2 separate regions of the Homo sapiens genome follow, and region 2 is linked to region 1. The links come from fine-mapping of genetic effects on gene expression. Tissue or cell type: sun-exposed skin. Region 1 holds a variant in brackets; the other region holds the start of a gene. All regions are shown on one strand. Distances are from middle to middle.

What was found. PIP is the estimated chance that this variant, and not a neighbour inherited with it, causes the effect.
Region 2: CPVL starts here. The variant in region 1 is fine-mapped to the expression of CPVL in sun-exposed skin (GTEx, PIP 0.96).

Annotation. Positions count from the first base shown.
Region 1 is chr7:28,943,637-28,947,988 of GRCh38, forward strand. No RefSeq gene overlaps it. Among named protein-coding and RNA genes, the nearest start is that of TRIL, 13 kb to the right of the region's middle. The variant G/A (reference allele first, on the strand shown) is at 2,476.
Region 2 is chr7:29,144,421-29,148,596 of GRCh38, forward strand. CPVL (carboxypeptidase vitellogenic like) reads right to left here and starts at 2,117. Exons shown (of 13, transcript NM_031311.5): 1 at 2,009-2,117. It also overlaps a transcript of CHN2 not described here.

The sequences.
Region 1 (4,352 bases):
AAAATACATGCTTATAAAGGTCTGCTAAATTAAATAAACAAAATACCCTATGCCTCAAAGTAGTTTATGCTTAATGAGTCTTACATAAATTAAATAATACATGTGTACATATGCATGTATATATATGTATGTGTGTGTGTGTATATATATATATAGAGAGAGAGAGAGAGAAAGAGAGAGAGAGAGAGACAGAGATGGTCTGGCTCTGTTGCCCAGGCTGGAGTGCAGTGGTGTGATCACAGCTCTCTGCACTGCAACCTCTAACCTCCCAGGCACAAGCAATCCTCCCGCCTCAGCCTCCTGAGTAGCTGGGACTACAGGCATGTGCCACCATGCTCGGCTAATCATTTCTTTTTAATTTTTTGTAGAGACGAGATCTCCCTATATTGCCCAGGCTAGTCTCGAACTCCTGGCCTCAAGCGATACTCCCATGTCAGCCTCCCAAAGTGCTAGGATTACAGGTTTCTTAATACATGTATAAAACCAAGATAAAAATCTCAAATACAGCTTCTCCCTTCTATAAGATTTGCCATATTGTAAGTCAGTAATATCTTTAATGTAGGCAATATTAAAATTAAGCATTTTTATTTTCTTTTAAACAATGAGCTATTTATTTGTCTATCTACAATTTTGAGACCTGGTGGTGATTGTATAGTAGTAAGTTTGCCACAGTCCTTACCAGGAGAGGAGCATCTATGAATTATTCCACAAAATAAGAGTTCTACCATATCTCTAATCCATTGTGCTCCTCTTCTCCAACCAATTTTGGTTTCAGATTGAGCACTTGTTTAAAATTTAATGTGCACAATAGACAGTTATTGCTTTTTTTGCAAGACAGGATTCCTTTCTAATCTTCTCTGTATCATTCCAATTTTAGTATATATGCTGCCAAAAAGAGCACAGGGTTCCTTTCCAAGCAAATGCAATACTCAGAAAGATGTCTAAGTGGGAAATCATGATACCAGGATTGATAATGTTCTGAAGTTGACACCAAAAGCCTCAACCACAGGGCTGTTAAGCAGACACAATTATTTACTCTCCTTCACTGGAACTTTCTTAGATGTGACCTAAATGTAATCTGATTTATAGAGCTGTTCATTATAAAAGGAGTCTCATATTAATTTTATTTGGAAAGGGTTTCCCCCCATGTTTTACATAATGTTGAGGAAAGAGAAGAGCTAAGTATAAAGAAAACATATTTCTGGGTGCTAATTTGTATATATTAGCCTAAAGATTACACAAATTTAAGAATACCTGTCCATGTGTACAAAGTCTCAAAAAACATAGCCTGTCAAATAAAAAAAAAATTCTTTTTTACTATACACAATAAATGCGGCTAAAAAAGAAACAGTTTTTAAAGGTTATGGACATGTTATTTGACAAACAAATCTGTATGTGACATAATAAAATTGATAACTCTTTACCAAGGCTCATAAGAGAGAAGATACAAATTTCCAGTATCAGGAATGGAAGTGGGGAACATTACTATAGATTCTACTAATATTAAAAATAATAAGAAGAAAATATTCCAATAAGCTTTATGCCAATAAATTTGATAGCTTAGATGAGATGAACAAATTCTTTGAAAGCCACATATTACTAAAGTTCATCCAAGAATATTAGATAATCTGAAGAATCCTAAATCCATTAAATAAATTTAATTCATGGGGAAAAAAACCTTTCTACAAAGAAAACTTCAAGCAAATAAGCCTTCACTGGCAAACCTATCAACATTTAGAAAAGAAATAATACCAGTTCTATAGAAGCTCTTCCAGAAAATAGAATTGGAAGAAACAGTTCTCAACTTACTTTATGAGGCCAGCATTATTCTGAAACCAAAACCAAAAACAGACATTACAAAAAAACGGAAAACTGGAGACAAATCCATTATGAACATAAATACAAAAATCCTTAATAAAATGTGAAGAATTTGAAACCAGTAATATATAAAAATGATAATATATCATAACTAGGTGGGATTTGTCCCACTTAGTTGCAAGGTTGGTTCAAAACTCAAAAATCAATCAATGTAATTTTCACCATATCAACAGATTAAAGAGGAAAAGTCATACTATCATTTCAATAGTGCAGAAAAAGCAACTGGCAACATTTAACATCCCTTCTCAGCAAATTATAACTTCCTCGATCTGATGAAAGGCATCATGAAAACACTGAGCTGATATCATACTTAATGTGAAAGATTGAATGCTTTACTCCTAAGATTAGCAGTGAGGCAAGGAAGCCTTCTCTTACTACTGCTATTAAACAGTGTGTTGCTGTTTTTTTGGTTTTTTGTTTGTTTTTTTGAGATGGAGTCTTGCTCTGTTGTCCAGGCTGAAGTGCAGTGGGGTGATCTTGGCTCACTGCAGCCTCTGCCTCCCGGGTTCAAGTGATTCTCCTGCCCCAGCCTCCCGAGTTGTTGCTGTTTTTAACCAGTGCAATAAGGCAAGAAAAATTTATAAAGGGCATACCAAC[G/A]GGAATGAAAAAATAAAATTATCTTTATCACAGACAATGTGATTATATGCATGAAATATTCAAAAGAATGTGCCAAAAAACTACAAGAACTAAGTTTAATGGTCAATGTATAAAATCCAACTTATTTCTATAGACTAGAAAATGTTCAATTGGAAACTGAAATTTTCTAAAAGTGCCATGTATACTTTCGATGTTATTATATAACATCAAAATCATGAAATACTTATAGAGCTAACAATATTTGATTTAAGATTTGTTGGCTGAACACTTTAAGACATTTATCAGATAAATTACAAAGAACTAAATAAATTAAAAAACACACTGCATTCACAGATCAAGAGTCAGTTAAGATGTCAATTCTTTCCCAATTCATTTATAGATTTCATGCAATCTACCTCAGTCTAAATGTTTGTGTCTCCTCCCTCCCCAAATTTATACCTTGAAATCCTAACCCCTAAGGTGATGGTATTTTAGGAGGTGGGGCCTTTGGGAGGTGATTAGGTGATGAAGAGAGAGCCCTCATGAATGGGGTTAGTACCCTTATAAAAAGAGGCCCCAGAGAGCTCCTTTGGTTTGTCCACCATGTGAGGTTAGAACAAGACGACAGCTGTCTGCTAGGAAGCAGGCCCTTACCAGACATTGAATCTGCCCAAGCCTTGGTCTTGGACTCTCCAGCCCCTAGAACTGTGAGAAATAAAATTCTGTTGTTTGCAAGCCACTCAGTTGATGGTAGTTTGTTACAGCAGCCTGAATGGACTAAGATACTATCAAGATCACAATCCCACCAGACATTTTTCTTCAGGCAATAACAAGCCAATTATAAAATTTATATGGAGAATCAAAAAGCTAATTGGCCAAAATCAACTTTGATAAAGAAGAATAAATTTGGAGAACTTATGCTACCTGATTTCAAGACTGCCTATGTAATCAAGACAATTTGGTACTGGACCAAGAATAGACATACGAATCAGTGGACCAGAATAGAGTTTCAAGAAATAGACACACATATAGGGCCAACTGATTGTTTTCAACAAAGTTGCAGAGGTCATTCAATGCTGAAAAATTGGTTGTTATCTTTTATATATAACAAAATGTACTGGATGACTATATATTCATATGGAAAAAATAAAACCAAAACAAAAAAACATTAATCTTGCTTGCTTGCTTGATCCATATCTCACACCATAAGGTATGGATCTATTTTTAAAACCAATTTGAACCAGTGAATGAATAAACAATGTGGGGTATGTTCAGGCAATGGAATACTACTCAAAAAGCCAGACACAAAATGTTACATACTGTATGATTCCATGTATATGCCACTCTAGAAAAGGAAAAACCATAGGGAGAGAAATTAAATCTGAGATCACCAGGGATTGAATTTATGGGAAAGGGCATTGACTAAAAGGAGCACAAATGAACTGTTTGTGGTAAAGGAAATGGTCTATATCTTGATTATGGTGCTGGCTAAATGATTGTATGCATTTGTGAAAACTGATGGAACTATACATTCAAAAGGGGTAAATTTTACTGTATGTAAACTACACCTCAATATAGCTTACTTTAGGAAAGAAGAAAATCAAAGCAAAGAAAATGGAAAGAGAGGCTACATGATAGCTAATGCATGATCCTAGATTGCACCAGGAGGCAACAGCTAAAAAGAATGTTATTAGGACAGTTGATAGATTTGAATATGGATTGTGGATTAGATAATGGCATTTTATCAGGGTTAAATTTTCTGATCTTGATAATTGTACTGTGGTTATGTAAGACAATGTCCTATTCTTCAGAAATACAACTGAAATATTTAGTGGTAAAAAAAAAAAACCTATAATGTCTGTAGTTTATTCTTAAGTAGTTGACAGAGAGAATGAGAA
Region 2 (4,176 bases), 200 kb after region 1:
CATGGTGGTGTACACCTGTAATTCCAGCTACTCAGGAGGCTGAGGCACAAGAATCCCTTGAACCCGGGAGATGGAGGTTGCAGTGAGCAGAGATGGTGCCACTCCAGCTTGGGTGACAAAGTGAGACTCTTGTCTCAAAAAAAGAAAGAATGGGTCATTACTATTTACCTTGAGTATTTGGGTGCTAATAAACAGATATCTGATGATACCTGGGGCAAGAACTGAGTTCCTCCCCTCTCATTGCCTTAGTTCTGTGCATCCCAGGGTAGTATTCAACACTCAGTGTTTCCTCTGACAAACTAGATGCTTCCCAAAACAAAAACAAACTCATTTTTAGAATTCTGTTATATTATTTGCTTCTTGTTTTTATTTTTTGTGGGGAGTGAACTGGTAAACCCAGTGGACTTTCTTAACACTCTTCTAAGTCATTCAAACTGTCAGTCAAAACCCACCTATTTCTCAGGCTAGTAGAATCCCACTATAAAGTGATTTATAAACTGGATTTATATAAATTGGGGGATCAATTGCCCCTCCCAAACAATCATCTCCTATAAAAGATTAATAAAACAACATCTGGTTAAGAACACTGACACTACATTATAAAGGGTTGCCCCTGTACTTAGACTAGCATGAGGTACACATCTAGAATGCCCAGTTAGCCAAACGGTCTTGACGACCATGCAGACTTTCATATGCCAACAAAGCCGGTGCAGTGTACTTTTCCAAAAGTGCTCCAATTCTCCTTTTGGACAACTTTCTTAAACGTTATTTACCAAGCTAATAAAATGTATTCTCAATGGACTTTTTACTCTGCTTACATCTTTGTTCTTACTCATCCCAAAGCAAAGAATGGAAAAAAAATGAGTTGTACATTTAGCCGGGGAAGGGAAAGGCAAGTACTGAGGGGCTCCTTTTTCATTTACTGATGCCAAAACTGAGGCTGTGGAAGATAAGTTACGTCCCTGATGTCATCCAAGTAGTGGATACCGGAACCAGGAATTGCACAGAATTGTCCAGCTCCAAAACCCAAGCACCTTGCTTGGGACCCACTGGGGTTGCAGTGAAGGTGGGGGGCTCAGAGGTGACTGCACACGGGTCATGCATAGCCACAGTCATTATATGGCCAGAGTTTTAAACATTATTTTGTTCTGTCTTCACCATAGACTTCATCATCAATCATAACTGATAAGGAAAATTACACTTAGCTGAAAAGCCAAGTCCCGTGCTAGGGAGGCATTTTCTGTATGTTATTTCTATTTCCAATAAAACAATTCTTTAAAAAGAAAAACTTATTATCTCCATCTTTCAGATGGAAAGACTGAGGTTTAGTAGGCTTAAATAATTTGCCCGAGGTCACTCACTAGCCAAGGCCAGAACTGGGATTTAAATCCACAAATATTCCAAAGTCCTTTTGTTTCTGTATCACTTCACAGGGAGCTGCTTCCACCTGTCTCCTGTGCCCTTGGTTTCTGCTAATCCTACATTCCAAGAATAAAAGTCTTCCTATGCGTTCCTAGGCAGAAGCCAAGTTTCCCTGCTTTGGGCACGTTCAAAATAGAAGGTATTTTCCGCTTCTCTTGCTTCTGAGCACCCACGAAATCAACACATCCCCAAAACACGCGTTGAGGGAGTAAGGGAAAGTGTCCTGCACCCGCCACCCTCCCGCGCTAAGAGCGGCAGAGGACCCCACAGCTTCGTACTTCCCCGGAGGAGCTCCTGGAGTAGGAGACGGCTTCTAGCCTGGAAGAACCCCGGGTGCGACAGTTGTGCCAGGAAACTTCAAGAGTATTCCCTCGGCTGGGCGCACGCAGTACATCCCCAATGCTCCAATTTGAACTTTGACTCGGCCACGACCACCCCACTCCAGTCTCACTCTACGGTGCTTTCTCCCCTGTTGGTGCTGAGGGCTTTTGAGACTACCTGCCCCGCGCTCCCTAAGTCCGAGGGACCGAGGCGAGGACCTGTCCCGCTGAGCTGGCACGACCCACGCAGGGCAGGCGGCACTTACGCGGCGCAGTCGGTGCTCCTCCCTGAGCCGCGGCGCGCAAGGACCCCAGCCGGTTGTCCTTGCAGCGCTTCCCAAATCAGGCAGAAGTGAGGCAGCCCCACCCAGTCACGAGGACCCTGCAGAACTCGAGCCTTTAAGCGCTCCTCTAGGCTCACATGACCCAGACCCACAGGGCAAAAAGTGCGTCGTCGTGTCCCAACCTCCTGGTCCCAGAAACCTGGCCGCATCAAGTCAGCGCTTCCCATGCTGGAAGAAGCAAGCAGCCCCAGGGTGGAATCTTAAAAATTAATGAAGAGCATCGGCGGGGTGCCATTCAGGTTGGTTTGTCCCTTTGTTTTATTTTGATTTTGTCTCCCAGTTTTTAAAAGCTGCTATCTTAAAATTTCAACCCTGTATTTTGAAATTATTTCTGCACTCTAGGACTTACTTGCAAGCCCAGGATTTACATTTGGAAAGCGAGTGGTGTTTGATTCCCACTGTTTAAAAAGGCAACACACGTTCGCTGATGGTCTACATTCCAGCTGCACTAGCAGTAAGCTCGCACCAAGTGCCACTGTCCTGCCAAGCACTCTCCTGAATCACTGCGCTGGAGTCTCAGAGCCACCTGATGTGTTCTGTACCATTATACCCATTTTGCAATTGGGGGACACAAACTAAGTGAGGTTAAGTAACCCATCCAGGGTCACATTGCTTGTAAGTGACCTGAGTGTATATTATTAGCCACCACCAGGTGCTGGGCATCGAGCCAGACAGTACGGGAGCAAGAACTAAAAAAGGCAAGGAGGTTGCAATGGCAAGTAGATAACACAAAATAAAGGAGGGTCATCATTATCAGCAACAGCAGCGTCAACTGCCAGACAGGTGGGAGAGGCCACGGGGAATCTTCTGCACTGTCCCGGGCCAACCTCCATCTCCTCACAGCTAGCTGCAGGAGTGAGCCCAGGGAAACCCGCAGTAGAGCAGCCCAGCCAACCCGACAGTCAGGGGGAAAAATTGTTTTAAGCCACTTTCAGTTTCGCGTAGTTTGTTATGCAACTAAGGCTAACTAAAGCACTAGTTTTACGAGCTGGAACAAACTAATGTCACTGAATATCTGTTTTCTCCTAAGTACCTACTTTATTGGGTTGTTGTGAGGACTCACTGAAAAACTATGTGTAAATCACCCAGCACAAAGTATGTGCTCAGTGACTGCAGTCATTCTTTGCTATCATACCTTCCATATGGAAGTACTTCCTACCCACCTAGCTCTTTAAGGAGAAAAATCTGTTTGTGGGAAAATAATTCTTTTAAGGCCAAAATCAGCCCACCTTTAATATATGCAGGACCCAGGGCAAAAGTACAAACAGAGATCTGTAGGCCAGATACCTAAATATTTAAAAGTTATAAACAAAGTTAACAAATGATTAAGTACAATAAGTTCTACCTTCCTACCTAGACAAATATACCTTGGGAATTGACATGAAAGGCCAGATTGAAACTTTGGATGATCTGCACTTAAATATGATGGTGCAGGGAGAGGCGATTTCCAGTTCCTGGTTTGCAGCCACCTCCTCTCTTCCCACAGGGCTCTAGTCCATTGGTGGAAGCTCGGTCAAGCTTCCCAGAAGCAGCTGTCCCCCAGCCACCTCTTGGGCACAAGAGTATGAACACCAGAGTCAGCAATGTTCGCCCATGGGAGTACAGACATTAGCAGATAACACTGCTGCTGGCGTGCAGACCCTTGAAGCAGGCTCAGTGCCATTTGGGGAGGGAATTTGGAATTTGCCTTCTAAAGTGTGGGCCCTGGACAAGGGCTCCTTGGGTCTAAGTATAAGGACAACTACTGGCCAAAGAATACCTGTGCCCACGTGGAACCACTTAAAAACTAAACTGAATTTTACAGTAAACACAGGAGGAGCCATGCTGTAAGCATATTTATTCAAAAACAGGGTGTCCCAAAAGTCTTCCTGCAGTTTTAGTAACCTCAAGGCTATAAATGCTGCAACTTATAAGAACACCATTTGAAAGTTAATTTAACACTATTTATCTCTGTGAATGTTGAATAACACGTTTTAACTTTAATTTTTGTTTCAGTTCCCCTGAGTGAAATATGGCATACATTAACCAGAAGAGAAAATTACATTTATTAAAATAATTAAAACAGAGTCAAAAGAAGTAAACGTTCAAAT